2 separate regions of the Homo sapiens genome follow, and region 1 is linked to region 2. Evidence: fine-mapped expression QTL. A gene starts in region 2. The other region holds a variant in brackets. All regions are shown on one strand. Distances are from middle to middle.

Evidence for each region. PIP is the estimated chance that this variant, and not a neighbour inherited with it, causes the effect. A credible set is the group of variants that fine-mapping cannot tell apart.
Region 1: its variant is the best candidate, but not a certain one, in a credible set for the expression of SENP5 in monocytes (Quach 2016, PIP 0.70).

What each region holds. Positions count from the first base shown.
Region 1 is chr3:196,922,593-196,930,592 of GRCh38, reverse strand. SENP5 (SUMO specific peptidase 5) reads right to left here. Exons shown (of 10, transcript NM_152699.5): 7 at 7,042-7,179; 8 at 2,714-2,797; 9 at 910-960. Among named protein-coding and RNA genes, the nearest start is that of NCBP2-AS1, 13 kb to the left of the region's middle. The variant TG/G (reference allele first, on the strand shown) is at 4,111.
Region 2 is chr3:196,862,788-196,871,317 of GRCh38, reverse strand. It overlaps SENP5 (SUMO specific peptidase 5), which reads right to left and starts at 3,398. Exons shown (of 10, transcript NM_152699.5): 1 at 3,245-3,398. RefSeq lists an enhancer at 1,889-2,390 and a silencer at 3,042-3,621.

The DNA of each region.
Region 1 (8,000 bases), 60 kb before region 2:
GGGTGAGCAACCTAGATCCCTCGCATCTGCAGTTCACAACAGGGTTCACACTCCTAAGAGAACCTAATGTGGACAGTATCTGTCCGTGGCCCAGGGGTTTGGGACCCCGATCTAAGGCAGCATTTTCATGTCTGTTTAAACTACTGTAAAAATACACTGTTTTAAGCATTTACCCAAATTATAGGTGACTGACCAAGCTAGTGCATGGCTTGGGATCTCCTCTCCCTCCTGACCCAATACTGTGAAAAGCAGCAACTGATGAAAAGGCCTCAATTCCTCCCAAAGTGCAACCTGCTGGAGTGCAGCTAGACCCATCATGGCCCTTAATGGGAACTTGAATTTGTTTATAAAACCCCAAACATGCATGAGGTATACAAACGAACCGGTCTTCCAAGATCTTTGCAAATCTCTAAATTCATGCATCATATTCTGTAATTTCCAACATAAATATATGTATAACTGAATTTTTTTCCATAGCCCTTTTCGATCTCTAAGGAGATCTACAGCACAAGATGGCAGTTTCTCAACGTGGACCTTATTTAAAATCTAATCACTGTGTCAAAGACCTGCAGATTGCTTGCCAATGTTTTTTTTTTTTTTTTTTTATGCAAATGCCAATGGTTATGATATGGACAAATTCAAGTCAGTCTCCAATGTGGCTTACTAATAACCTCCAGTGAGACATGGATGACACCCACACTTCACTCTTGATCCCTGGAAGGTGGTTCTTCCTAATGATAACATCTGAACATGCAGAAACTACTGCTCCTCAGCAATAAAGGGGAGGGAAAGTACTCCGTTGCTCGTACCTAGCATCATATACACATACAGGAACTGCCATCTCTCCCCTCTCAACCCAACAGACTCAATTCACACATTGTAAGTTCCGAAAAGCAAGTGTTTCTTTACCTGGAGCACAAAGACTCCACAGTCACTGTCGTTTTTCTGTTGTGGAATACACTGAAGGGAAAAACAAAATAGTCATTAAAACAAGATCCATTACTTCTCTTCAGATAAGAAAAACTCCTTTATGGAAAAATGCGCAAAAGATAGGAAACTTTTCTCTCTCCAGGACAGCTGGTATATCTGATATCTCAAGCATCTAATTTTATGGAGGCACCTGGCCACATAAAAAGAGCTATCAGGTGGCAACCCCAATTTATAGGACAATGTTTTACCTAAATATGAGAAATGGGAAATCAAATGTAAAAACCTGTTTTAAAACATGCATTTGGATACTGAGCTCTGCTATCAATTCATTGACAGTGGAGTCAAAATGGAACTGTGCCTGGGAGAACAAAGGCCCAGCCTCTGGATGCTAGGATGGCGACAACTCCGCTGAGCAGTCTTCACTTCTGATCTCACATCACACGACCCTGTCCTATTCTTTGAAAGAAATCGTGAAGGTAAACAGTATGGTTTTTGTTTTGGGTTTTTCGCGACAGGGTCTCACTCTGTCGCCCAGGCTGGAGTGCAGTGGCACGATCTCAGTCTCCTGAGTTCAAGCAATCCTCCCACCTCAGCATCCCAAGTAGCTGGGACTACGCCTGGCTAATTTTATTATTTGTAGAGATGAGGTCTCACCATGTTGCCCAGGCTGGTCTTGAACTCCTAGACTCACGCAATCCACGCACCTTTGCCTCCCAAAGTGCTGGGATTACAGGTGTGAGCCACTGTGCCCGGCCAACAGTATGTTTTTAAAAGAACTGGTTACTGTATTCTGCTCAAAGCGGTAATACAGAAGATCCTGACTAAATTTAGAATACCCAGATTTTTTAGTTGGGTAAATTCAGGAAATTTACTAGTTCTGGTTTGAACTGGTATACTAGGTTATTCAAAACACAAAACTTAAGCTTAATTTTAAAATTTAGCATTTGGTTCGGTTCAAGGGTGAACTAATAAATCTTGTCTCTTTGGGTTTGGGTTAAAGGTTTGTTTCAAGATCCTGCCTATAACATCCTGTCAATGATCCAGACAGACCTGTGTTCAAGGACCTGACTCTGTATCAATAGTTTTGATGTCCTTTGGGGAAAATCACACCTGGGCTTCAGTTTTCTCATTTACAAAATAAAGACGATGCTTATCCCTAAATGACCTGCCTACCTCACAGGTTATAAGGATCAAATGAGATCCAATACACAAAAACACTGGAAACAACACAGCCCACCATCAATGAAGACACTGGTATTTACGACAGGAATGAGCGGCTGTGCCTGGGCACTCTGCCCCACAGTTTGAATGTCATGGGCCAAGCATGGTGCTGCATCCAGACAGTGGTGGGACTGAAGCGCTTGGGCTACTATCTTCCCCACATGCCTGCCAAGTAGCTCAATGCACTTTCTCCCCCTCAGTGGATCCAAATAGTCATTTCAGCATTTCTCTGGGTCTATATGGGTCATCTGGAAATAAGAGCCATGATGCAAGAGGCAAGTGCCACCCAAAAAAGATTTTTTTTTTCCCCAGAAGAGCAAACACATCATTAGCAACTTCCTCAGGGAGGAAATGACTGAAGTGATTTGCTCCCGGGAAGCACTGGGCAACTGAGCAGCGATGATGAATAGTCAACTGAAGTTCATTCTCAGCTGCCTCCCTGGAGCCTCCAGGCTCTCCTTGGTATCTCTGTCACTAGTCTTCAAATGCTCTTAAAGGCACCCACCCTTAGATAATTCCATCCCCTGGACATGCCTGGGTTTCATTGTTATCACATACTTACCTTCGTAACAGCAGTCTGCCAACCCTGAAGAAATTCAGGTCTATTTTTTTCTCTGGCTTCAGTCAGCAAATACTTTCTTATATTCTGGTTAAAAAGAAACCACAACACAGATGCTGTGTTCCATCAGTTGGTGAAAAATGGAACATGCCCATAGCAGACAGAAGGAAAGGAGGAGGCTGTGGCCCCATAACTGGGCAGAATATGCATTAAGAAGCTGGAACAATTTTTTTTTTTTTTTTTTTTAAAGAGAGGATCTTGCTCTGTCACCCAGGCTGGAGTACAATGGCGTGATCATAGCTCACTGCAGCCTTGAACTCCTAGGCTTCAGAGATCCTCCTACCTCAGCCTTCCAAGTAGCTGGGACTATAGGTGTACACCACCGCTCCCGGCTAAAGCCGGGACTTTATTTCAGACTCTTCATTTCATATTGTTAAGGGGGAGTCAGACCTTCTGTATTCAAGGTATGCATCAAGACTGTGGACGCTGGCATTTGTGTAATCAGAACGTTTTATGAGATGGTTAGCCAGCCCTTCCCAGCAGTAAGTCAGCTTGCTGCATTTGAAACTTACATACTGGCAAGTCAAAAAGAAAGTCTTCATCATTGCCCATGCTCAACAGAGGAAAGGAACCCATGGCAGACATCATTAATAACTAAAACTAAATGAAAAATATTCCAGCCTTAGATATTCTGATACACTCCTTATTTTTGAGGGCTGCAGAAAAGGTTAACATTCAGCTTCTGGAAAGTAATACTAAAATTCCTTCTGAATACTAAATATGCTCAAGTCCACTGTTGAACTATCTACCAAGATGAAGCCTGCTGGAGTTTCAAAATGTCCCCAGTGCTCTCAACCTCTGTGCGTCTCTCTCCACATCAAGAGTGAAGTCAGAGGTTATGTGAATAACCCACCCCACCCCCCAACAAAAGTGGACCAGGGCCAGACGCGGTGGCTCACACCTGTAATCCCAGCACTTTGGGTGGCTGAGGCAGGTGGATCACATGAGGTGAGGTCAGGAGTTCAAGATCAGCCTGACCAACATGGTGAAACCCCATTTCTACTAAAAATACAAAAATTAGCCAGGTGTGGTGGTGCACACCTGTAATCCCAGCTACTCCAGAGGCTGAGACATGAGAATCGCTTGAACCCAGGAGGCGGAGGTTGCCATGAGCCAAGACTGGGCCACTGCACTCCAACCCAGGGGACAGAGTGAGACTCTGACTCAAAAAAAAAAAAAAAAAGGTGGACTGGAAGCCACCTCTTCAGAAGAAAAAACATGATGAAAGCAAATACTTAATATCCAACAAAGTATGACAGCATGTTGCACTGCTCCCTCTAAAGAAGTAACTTCAAGTTCTCAGAATAAGCAGTATATATAAATTCTTTTTTTTTTTTTTT[TG/G]AGACGGAGTCTTGCTCTGTTACCCAGGCTAGAGTGTAGTGGTGCGATCTCGGCTCGCTGCAACCTCCACCTCCCAGGTTCAAGCGATTCTCCTGCCTCAGCCTCCCGAGTAGCTGGGACTACAGGCGTGCACCACCATGCCCAGCTAATTTTTGTATTTTTAATAGAGACGGGGTTTCACCATGTTGGCCAGGCTGGTCTCTATCTCTTGACCTTCTGATCCGCCCGCCTCAGCCTCCCAAAGTGCTGGGATCACAGGCGTGAGCCACCCTGCCCGGCCAGTATATGTACATTCTTAAGTAAAATACAGGCAAAAAGGATTTGTCCTTAAAAATGGTCACCGGCACTCAAAATGTACTGAGCATCTCTAAGGGTTCAAGTGCTGGGGACACTAGTGAATAAAGCTCTTGTAGTCTCTGCTGTCATGGAATCTACACATTTATGTGGTGACTGTTTAAAACACTTTTTGTCAATTCTTTGGAAATACAGGCCCCTTAGTTAAGAGCCACTTCTACAACCCCTACATCCTCTTAAAACTAAAAACAGCTTGACCCCACCTGGCCAGATGACTGAACTGTATTTGGCTCTAAATGACTTCTAGCTATCACCTAAAAGGAGTCTGTTCTTAGGGTCTTTTTGCAAATGTGCAAAATTATTAGGCCAATTGTAATTTTGCTGAAAAGGTAAGAACTCTGCAGGAGGGCTTGGGCAAAAATTCAGAAGATGAATTTTTATTACTGTGCAGAACCAGGCCCTAATGATTCAAAATCGACTTAAACCCAACTGCATGTTTTACAAACAAAATCCTGTTTAACCATCATTCACTCCATGAAGGCGAATGTTTCTCTGGCCCCTACCTGACTCCCTAGCATCAGTGCCTGGCACAAAGCAAGAGGCACAGTAAATAGTTCCTACTTGAAACAGTTTTCCCAACACCTCTGCTCTCCTCTGCCTGTCAGAATCTGAGTCTTAAAGGCACTGATATGGCTGCACTTTTGGTTATACCTTTGCAGGTCTGTCTAGGAAAGAGACAATATAGACAGGCTCTGGCAGGTATGGGAATATGTTGGTTGAGAGAAAGGCAAGGAATTAGGGGAAGGGAACTGGAAAAGACGCTCACATCTGGTATTGTGAGAACTCTGGGCCCACGAGGCTTCTTGTTTTTGGGGTATTTTTTTTCCTGGATTTCTTGGAAATGAAAATGTGGATTTCGAAAACTTGATTTTCCTCATAGTTTGCATTATACTTAATTTTTAAATTAAATGTTAATTAAACAAATAATACAAGAAAATATTCTCCTTGTAAAAAAAAAAACGCAAAATGAGGCCAAATCCTCTTTAACTATTAGTCCTGCTTTTCTACACTTACCCAAAGGTAATAATCATTGATATAAAAAATGGTAAGGTCCCACCTTTTTACTTACAAATATGTATGTATATATGTGTCTACACATACACCTGCATGTATTTGTGTACTATACCGTATCATTCCACAATTGGCTTTTTAAAGCTCTATGCCTTGGACATCTTTCCATTTGAGGACTTGAAGGTCTACTATATTCAATTTAACTACTATGGTCAGTTTAATAGTATGGGTATACCGTACCATAGTGTATTTAGCTATTCTCTTGCTAGAGCTAAATTTGGGTTGTTTTATTTTGCACTATTATAAATAATGCTGCCATGAACATCCTCGCACATGCCTCATTCTTGTGTGCATATACAAGCATTTTTATGCAGTAGATAACAAGAAATGGAACTGATATGCAACAGAATTTGTATCTTTTTAATTTACAAAGCACTTAGAACTGATGAGAACTGCAACTATCCCCAAGCGGCTGTATCAATTTATACACTCTAACCAGAAAATATGAGAATGCCTATTTCCTTACACTTACATAGACACTTGAATAGCATCACTTTTTCTAACATAATGGGCAAAAAATTTAACTGATGTAGTTTTCATTTGCATTTCTATAATTTCTGGTAAGGCTGAACACCTCTCTGTGTTTTTAAATGGTCATTTGCATTTTTCCTAAAATTTACTAAATTAGCCTTTGTCCATTTCTATTATGTCCTTTTATCCTCCCCTTATTCATTTGTAGGAGTTTTCCATGTATTCTGGATAGTTATTGTCTGTTATTTGCATCATACATATTTTCTCCAAGTCTGTTGCTTGTCCTTTAACTTTATGATATACAGAAGTTTTAAATTATTAGGTGGTTAAATTTATCCAATTGTTCCTTATGTCTTTTCTTTGGTTCCATGTTAAGAAGTCCTTCCCCACTCTGTGAACATAACATTTTCCATATTTCATTCAAATACTTTTACAGTTTTGTACAGATTTCTTTTAAGTACTTAAAGCTTTAGGAGTTTTCATAATAAAGAATTTCCACATTTCTTCCTAGGGCATATTCCTGGGTTATTTATGTTTTGTTTCTTTTATAAATGGAATCTTATTCCCAGTTACATTTTCTTACTGGTTCTTGGTAGTGCAGGAAAATCCGGAAACCTACTCATTTTTCTTGATTTTGTATCCCACCATCTGTTTATTAGCTGAACACTAATATTTTGTCAATTGATTCCATTAGGTTATAGTTTATTCTACAGGAGTTATTTTGCAGATACAGGCCAATTTTAGCTCTAAGATGATCAAAGAAAAACAATTTCTAACCACATTCAAGATGTAGTTTTAAGGGAAAAGCAGAGAAAATCCAAGTGGAGTATCTCAGAGGGGGATCTGGATCCTAGACAGATCCTCTCCTCAGCCAGAGATTCCTCTTCTAGTCCTTTTCTCAGCTAACACTTTGGAGGATTTTCATGACATAAACTGTTCCTATATGGTTTTGACTGCTGCTGTTCTATCTAGAGCTAAGATGCTATTTGGCCAATTACAAAATAAATGAAAAAATAGGCAGTATATTAACTTACCTCTACACAAAACTTAAAATGAATGCCTTGGGAATCATAAAATGAAATAATTCGATTAGAGAGTGTCACAGTAATGAGAGACCAGTGGACTTCCAGGTGAATAGGAATCAACAGAAGACTCTTTTTAAACAAATCCACCTGATCAAGAAAAGAGAAAGAAATGCAGCCATCACCACAGGCTATCCAAACCACCAAAAACCAGCAGCTTCCATTTGCTGACCTTTGACCTGCACAAGGGCAAAAAAGTAGGAAGCAATGAACCAGAATTTGAACCCAGGTCTTACTCTAAGCCCATGCTTGTAACTATTAAGCTATAATACACAACAATAATACAAAAATAAAGATATACAAAGTACAGTTTTCCAGTTAATCTACTAAACCTGTGTGTCAAGTGCCTGAAGACTTGGCTCCTTGTTTACCTCATTTTCTCATATACATATTTAACCTGGATTCAACTCTTGTTTAGAAAGGAATCATAGTATTAGAAAATGGTATAAGGGGCCAGGCACGGTGGCTCACACCTGTAATCCCAGTACATTGGGAGGCTGAGGCGGAAAAACTGCTTGAGCCCAGGAGTTTGAGACCAGCCTGGGCAACATAATGAGACTCTGTCTCTACAAAAAAATAAAAAATCAGGCCGGGCTCAGTGGCTCACGCCTGTAATCCCAGCACTTTGAGAGGCCAACAGATGGTTTGAGCTCAAGAGTTCAGGACCAGCCTGGGTGACATGGCGAAACACTGTATCTACAAAAAAATACAAAAACTAACCGGGCGTGGTGGTGTGCACTGGTAGTCGCAGTTACTTGGTAGGCTGAGGTTCAAAGGATGGCTTGAGCCTGGGAGGCGGAGGTTGCACTGAGCAGAGATTGCACCACTGCACTCCAGCCTGGGTGACAGAGCCAGACCTTGTCTCAAGAAAAATAAATAAATAAAAAATCAGCCAGGTGTGGTGGTGCATG
Region 2 (8,530 bases):
AACTTCAGAATTAAGGTATTCCAGACACAAAAATAAAATTTTAGAGATTCAGCTATTTGGTTTCTCAGATACATACCAGGTCTCTCTAGACTCTGAATGTATTAGACAACCTATGTGTTACCATCACTTGTTTTTTGTTTTTTTTTCTGAGACAGAGTCTCACCCTGTTGCCAAAGCTGGAATGCAATGGTGCAACCTCGGCTCACTGCAACCTCTACCTCATGGGTTCAAACGATTCTCCTGCCTCAGCCTCCCGAGTAGCTGGGATTATAGGCGCCCGCCACCATGCCCAGCTAATTTTTTTGTATTTTCAGTACAGACGGAGTTTCACCATGTTGGCCAGGCTGTTCTCTAACTCCTGACTCGTGATCCACCCGCCTCGGCCTCCCAAAGTGCTGGGATTACAGGCATGAGCCACCGCACCAAGCCAACATGACTTTTTAAATCACTGACTTTAGGATATCCTTTGTCATCTGGTTGTAGAAAATCAACATGCTGCTGACCGGATACAGTGGCTCACACCTGTAATCCCCGCGCTTTGGGAGGCTGAGACGGAGAGATCACTTGAGGTCAGGAGTTCAAGACCAGCCTGGCCAACATGGTGAAACCCCATCTCTACTAAAAATACAAAAATTAGCCGGGCGTGGTGGTGGGCGCTTGTAATCCCAGCTACTTGGGAGGCTGAGACAGGACAATCACTTGAACCCGGGAGGCGGAAGTTGCAGTGAGCAGAGATCAAGCTGTTGCCCTCCAGCCTGCACAAGAGTGAAACTCTGTCTCAAAAGAAAAAAAAAGAAAATCAACATGCTATAAACATGATCATTTTAGAGAAAAAATAATTTAGTATATTTGGAGAATCTGTGATGTAGGGTCCATTTCCGGCTCTACTAATAATAGAGTAGGAATTGCTAAAGCAATAAGAAGGCTACCAAAGAATAATTGGAGAATGAATATATTTCCCTAAAAGAGAAAGTTCAACGCAGCCTGATGGCCTATTTACCTTAATTTTGAAAATATTACCCACGCCCAAAAAAAGTCACAAGGGTTTCACCATAATAGGTAAGAAAAATACATGTAAAGCACTGTGACCACCTTACCAGTTGACCCTTTCTGAGCGTCTACCAAATTCTTTAAATCAGTGACAGAGTACAATCTAACCAAGAAAAGAAAAAGGAACTAAAAATTCGCAAAGACATGCTTAATATCGCAAATGCCAAGGTGATCTACTTCAATCAGATGTTTGGCAACTAGAGAAGCACAGAACCCCGTTCTCAAACTGAGCTCCATAGGAAGCTGGCTAATAACACAAAGTAAATGGCCATGCATGCCAGGATGAAGGAGGCAGAAAGGCAGGCCTGTGTATAGAGCACTGGGTTTATGACAAGCTAGAATAAAAGCAAAATATTGTTAAATTTCAATTTTTCTATGATTTTTGAAGGATTCACATAATGGCCTACCAAAAAAAAAAAAAAAGGCTGATTTAGAAAGTAATATAGCCCAGGCGCAGTGACTCACTCCTGTAATCCCAGCACCTTTTTTTTTTTTTTTTTTTTTTTTTGAGACGGAGTTTTGCTCTTGTTGCCCAGGCTGGAGTGTAATGGCACTATCTCAGCTCACCACAACCTCGCCTCCCGGGTTCAAGCTAGTCTCCTGCCTCAGCCTTCCGAGTAGCTGGGATTACAGGCATGCGCCACCACGCCTGGCTAATTTTGTATTTTTAGTAGAGATGGGGTTTCACCATGTTGGTTAGGCTGATCTCGAACTCCCGACCTCAGGTGATCTGCCCGCCTCGGCCTCCCAAAGTGCTGGGATTACAGGCGTCAACCACCGCGCCCGGCTGATCCCAGCACTTTTGAGAGGCGGAAGCAGGTAGATCACTTGAGGTCAGGAGGTCGAGACCAGCCTGGCCAACATGGTGAAACCCCATGTCTACTAAAAATACAAAAATTAGCCGGGCGCGATGGCGGGCACCTGTAATCCCAGCTACTCTGGAGGCTGAGGCAGGAGAATCGCTTGAACCTGGGAGGAGGAGGTTGCAGTGAGCTGAAAAGATCGCGCCACTGCACTCCAGGCTGGGTGTCAGAGTGAGACCCTGTCCCCCCTCCAAAAAAAAATTGTGAGCCCAGGTGTAAATGAAGCCCCCCTCCCCAGCACCCTCCTCTACATACCAAGCTTTTCTCCTAGAAAAGATGCACTGGGAAAAAGCTATCTTGAGTAAAGATCAAAACTGATATAAGCCATCCCTCATATACCAATAATATGCCATCAATAAGCGTGAGACATGTGGATGGCTAGGAGAGAGTCTGGTTTCTTCCTGATGCTGCCCACCCAAAACAGAGACTGCAGTTAGGCTCTGACCACACGAGCGCCTGGCATCTCTAGGCAACCTTTTCCATACCAAGCTTAGTTATTCCGGGCAAAATGCAAAAAAAAAACATAAGTAGGAACCTATCATGAAGTGTCCTGGATATTCTTAAATTAAATTTAACCAGATTCTCAAAACATTTCATAACTAACGTCTGCTTTCTTCATTTAATTCTCCAAACATTATAATTTACATTGGTAGAAGAAAGTCCCACTTTACCTGCGGTGAAAAAGGTCGAAATGTCTATCTAGCATGAGATGAAAAACACTACCAGAGAGCAGGGTAGGATTTCACCTCGGCTATTCTCGCTCTAAGTCCAAAACTCCCACATCCTCTCCGCATCCCTCCACCCCGACAGAGTGGCCACAGGGCGTAGAGCGGAGGCTGATACCGCTCAGAGCAGACCGAAGGGAAAAGACGTCTCCCACCGCGCTCATGCCCAACCGGGCTCTCTGGAAAAGGGTCCCGGGGAGCGCGAGGAAAGAAACGAAGGCCGGAAGGAGGCAGAGCGGTCTAAGCAAATAAAAACCCCGGACTTCCACGGCGGCCGGAGCTGGAGGCCTGTGACAGCGGCTCCTCCTCTCAGAGCTTTCCCGGCTTCAGGAGGAGCTGGGGGGCGCCAGCTTCCCGGTGCCTGCGACGCACAGCCCGGCTGGAGCGAGAGCGCAGGGCAGCGGCCCCTCGGGACGAGCTCGCTCGCCTCCCCCGGAAAGGGAGGCTGTGGCCGAGACGGACGGCGGCCTCCAGCTCGGGCGGGGGAGGGCGGCTCGAGGCCTCCGGACCGGGCGCTGAGGTGGCGCACCGGCGCGGGAATGGCCCCAGCCAGCCCCGCCAGGCGATCGCTGAGTCCGTCACTCGTCTGCCCGCGTCCCCGCTTACCTGCTACCCTCGTTCCTGGCAGCTGCCCCGCCGCCGGCCCCGTCGCGGCAGCAGCCTGGACCGCGGACCCCGCCTTCGTCAGCTCCAAGGGAAGCCCCGCCAGCGACGAGGCGTCCGGCCTGTTCGCCGCGGCCACAGCCGCCGAGCTTCCTCTGAAGCGGCTGCCGCGACGCCGGCGCTGGCCTATCGCGTCACCTCCTCCGCGCCCTTCCGCCTGCGAGGCTGGGCCTGGCACCGCCCGCTTCCGGCGCTCCCGCCCCGCCTCCCGACCCGGGGCCGCCCCGCCCCCGCCCGTCACCGCGTCCTTAGCCCCGGCCTCCCTCAGAACGCGCTGGGATGGGAACCGCGTTCAGGAGCTGCTAAGCGCGTTTGAGACTTCAGCCCCTTCTCCAGCTTTTAACCTAAAAGGGCTAAATCAGACCGCAGCTAGTGTACACCCCTACCCTCCGCTGATCCCGTCACCCCTGCGCCGAAAGCAAAAGACCCATTCCAGCTCTGGACGTTGTGAGGCCTGGCCCAGGCGTCCGCTCTCTGGTTTTCCTATTGATCTTACCCCTGGTATTGTGATTGGCCTCTTTATCTATGTCTTACCCGCCCCAACTGTGAATGCTTTCCAAAATTATAAGCCGATGTCCTGACAGGCAAAAACATAATAATAGCAGATTTATGGCGGAAGATGAGTTCAGTTTTGAACATACTCGATCTGGAAGAATAAAGTGGAGGTGACTGCAATGGAAAACCAACAGTGCGTTGCTGAGAGCCTGTGTAGGCAGTAAGGATATGCATTGATGGTGGAGAAGATAAAAACAATACCGAAGCCAACTGCAGGATGGTTTGCTTTTAATTATCATCATGTGTCAGAAAATTCTAAACAATGTTAATGAAAAAGTACTCCTTTCCAAACAAAAGCTTTGTTTAGTCTTAGTTCTAAGCAATGGCTGCAATTACTGTTGATTTTTTTTTCTTTTTTCTTTTCTTTTTTTTTTTTTTCCAAACAGGGTCTTGCTGTCTCGCCCAAGCCGGAGTGCCGTGGCACACCCTAGGCTCGCTGTAACCTCTGCCTCCTGGGCTCAAGCGATCCTCCCACCTCATCTTCCAGGGTACCTGCGACCACAGGCTCCTGCACCACGCCCGGCTAATTTTTTATTACTATTACTATCATTATTTTTGTAGCGATGACATCTCCCTATGTTGCCCAGGCTGGTCTTGAACCCCTGAGCTCAAGTGATCCTCCCACCTGGGCCTCCCACAGTGCTCGAATTACAGGCGTGAACCACCACACCAGGCCCTCTCACTTCTTTTTAACAGTTTCTCTTTGTCAGTGATTTTTTTTTTTTTTTTAGAGGAGTGTCGCTCTGTCGCCCAGGCTGCAGTGCAGTGGCGCCATCTCGGCTCACTGCAAGCTCTGCCTCCCGGGTTCACGCCATTCTCCTGCCTCAGCCTCCTGAGTAGCTGGGACTACAGGCGTCCACCACCACGCTTGGCTAATTTTTTTTGTATTTCTTTAGTAGAGACCGGGTTTCACCAAGTTAGCCAGGATAATCTCGATCTCCTGACCTCGTGATCTGCCCGCCTCAGCCCCCCAAAGTGCTGGGATTACAGGCGTGAGCCACCGCACCCAGCCTGTTAGTGATTTTTAGCCATTTATTTTGTGCCCTATCTTTGTTTTCTTTGTATTTATCTGTCTTGGATATCATTGAGTTTCTCTGATTTGTGGGTAGATGTCTTGCATCAGTTTTGAGAAATTCTCAATCATTATCTCTTCAGATATGGTTTTTGCTGCATTCTCTATGCCTGTTCTCCGAGACACCAATTACATATGTAAGATTATTATTATTATTATTGAGACAGAGTTTCACTCTTTTTGCTCAAGCTGGAGTGCAGTGGCGCAATCTCGTCTCACTGCAACCTCTGCCTCTGCCTCCCGGGTTCAAGCGATAATCCTGCCTCAGCAGTATTATCTACTGAGGTAGATAATACTATTATAATAGTATTATTATCGAGTAGCCAGAATTACAAGCGCCCACCACCACGCCCGGCTAATTTTTGTATTTTTAGTAGAGATAGGGTTTCACCATGTTGGTCAGGCCGGTCTTCAACTCCTGACCTCCGGTGATCCACCTGCCTCAGCCTCCCAAAGTGCTGGGATTACAGGCATGAGCCACGGCACCCAGCCCATATGTAAGATTATTTGATCTTGTTCACCGTGTCTTTTACACTTTGTGATGTCAATTTTTTTTTCAATTATTCAGTTTGAAGGTTTTCTGTTTTTCAGGTTATTGAGTCTATCTTCTATAATCTCCAATCTGCTGTTAAATCTATACATTGAGTTCTTAATTTTAAATATTAGATTTTCAGGTTTTGTTTTTTTTTGTTGTTGTTGTTTGTTTTTTTTTTTTGAGGCCAAGCTTCGCCCTTGTTGCCCAGGCTGGAGTACAATGGCGCAATCTCGGCTCACTGCAACCTCTGCCTCCCAGGTTCAAGTGATTCTGCCTCAGCCTCCCAAGTAGCTGGTATTACAGGTGACCGCCACCACACCCAGCTAATTTTTGTATTTTTAGAAGAGATAGAGTTTCACCATGTTGGCCAGGCTGGTCTCAAACCCCTGACCTCGTGATCCACCCATCTCAGCCTTCCAAAGTGCTGGGATTACAGGCGTGAGCCACTGCATCTGGCCTGTTGTTACCATCCTTATATCCACGAATACTCATTATTTAGCTTCTACTTATAACTGAGAGCATGTAGCATTTGGATTTTTGTTCCTGCATTATTTCACTTAGGATAACAGCCTCAAGCTACATTCATATTTCAGCAAAAGACATGACTTCATACTTTTTATGGCTGTGAAGTATTCCATAGCGTGTTTGTACATTTTCTTTATCCAGTCCACCATCGATGGGCACCGAGGTTGACTCCATGTCATTGCTATTGTGAACAGTGCTGCAATGAACATACAAATGCATGTGTTTTTTTGGTAGGATAATTTATTTTCTTTTGGATGTATACCCAGTAATGGGATTGCTGGATCAAATGGTAGTTCTGTTTTAAGTTATTTAAGAAATCTCCAGGCCGGGCACAGTGGATCACGCCTGTAATCCCAGCACTTTGGGAGGCCGAGTGGAGCAGATCACCTTAGGTCAGGAGTTTGAGACCAGCCTGGCCAACATGGTGAAACCCTGTCTCTACTAAAAACACAAAAATTAGCTGGGTGTGGTGGTGGGTGACCGTAATCCCAGCTACTCTGGAGGCTGAGGCAGGAGAATTGCCTGACCCTGGGAGGCAGAAGTTGCAGTGAGCCGAGATCGTACCACTGCACTCCAGCATGCGTGACAGAGCAAGACTCTGTCTTGAAGAAAAAAAAAAGAAAAGAAATCTCCAAACTGCTTTCCACAGTAACTGAACTAATTTACATTTTCACCAACAGAGTATAAGTGTTCCCATTTCTCTGCAGCCTCAACAGCATGTTATTTTTTGGCTTTTTAATAATAGCTATTCCGACTGGTGTGAGATGGTATCTAATTGTGATTTTCATTTGCTTTTCTCTGATGATTAGTGATGTTGAGCATTTTTTTATATGTTTGTGGGCCACTTGTATGTCTTCTTTTGAGAAGTTCCTATTTATGTGTTTTGCCCATTTTATTTTATTTATTTATTTATATATTTATTTATTTACATGGAGTCTTACTGTATTGCCCAGGCTGGAGTGCAATGGCACAATCTTGGCTCACTGCACCCTCTATGTCCTGGGTTCAAGCAATTCTCCTGCCTAAGCCTCCCAAGTAGCTGGGATTACAGGCGCACACCACCACGCCTGGCTACTTTTTGTATTTTTAATAGAGTTGGGGTTTCACCATGTTGGACAGGCTGGTCTTGAACTCCCAACCTCGTAATCTGCCCTCCTTGGGCTCCAAAAGTTCTGGGATTACAGGTGTGAGCCGCCTCTCCCAGCCATTTGCCCATTTTTAATGGGGATATTTGTTTCTTGTTTGTTCAGTTAAGTTCCTTATAGATTCTGATATTGAACCTTTGTTGGATGCATAAATTATGAATATTTTCTCCCATTGTAAGTTGTCTGTTTACTCTGTTGATAGGTTCTTTTGCTGTGCAGAAGTTCTTTGCTTTAATTAGGTCCCATTTGTCAAGTTTTGGTTTTGTTGCAATTGCTTTTGAGGATTTAGTCATAAATTATTTCCCAAAGCCAATGTCCAGAATGGTGTTTCCCAGGATTTCTTCTACGATTCTTATAGCTTGAAGGGTTACATTTAAATTCTCAATTTGTTTTGAGTTAATTTTAATATACGGTGAAAAGTGGGGCTCCAGTTTTATTCTTTTGCATATAGCTAGCCAACTATCTTAGCACAATTTATTGAATACAGTGTTCTTTCCCCTTTGCTTGTTATTATCAACCTTGCCAAAGATCAGATGACCATAGGTGTTGTTTTTTTTTTAACCAATACCATGCTGTTTTGGTTACTGTAGCCTTGTAGTATAGCTTGAAGTCCAGTAATGTGATGCCTCTGGCTTTATTCTTTCCACTTAGGATTGCTTTCGCTATTCAGAGTCTTTCTGATTCCATGTAGATTTTAGAATAATTTTTTCTAGTTCCTTGAAAAATGACGTTGGTAGTGACAGGTGAAGCCAGCTGGACTTCCTGGGTTGAGTGGGGACTTGGAGAACTTTTCTGTCTTTAAAGAGGATTGTAAAATGCACCAATCGGCACTCTGTAAAAATGCGCCAATCAATGCTTTGTAGCTAGCAAGAGAATTGTAAAATGCACCAATCAGTGCTCTGTAAAACGCACCAATCAGCGCTCTGTAGCTAGCAAGCAGATTGTAAAATGCACCAATCAGCGCTCTGTAAAACGCACCAATCAGCACGCTGTAGCTAGCAAGAGGATTGTAAAATGCACCAATCAGCACTCTGTAAAACACACCAATCAGCATGCTGTAAAATGCACCAATCAGTGTTCTGTAAAATGCACCAATCAGCAGGATCCTAAAAGTAGCCAATTGCAGGGAGGATTGAAAAAAGTGCACTCTGGGCTGGGCGGTGGCTCACTGTATAATCTTAGCACTTTGGGAGGCCGAAGTGGGCGGATCAGAAGGTCAGGAGATCAAGACCATCCTGGCTAACATGGTGAAACCCCATCTCTACTAAAAATACAAAAAATTATTCAGCATCATACTTAATGGGGGCACCATAAAAGTGCTCCCAAACTTGAAGTCAAGAACAAAAGCAGTTTATCCATTTTTACAGCTATTACTTAATATTTTTCTGGATGTGTTA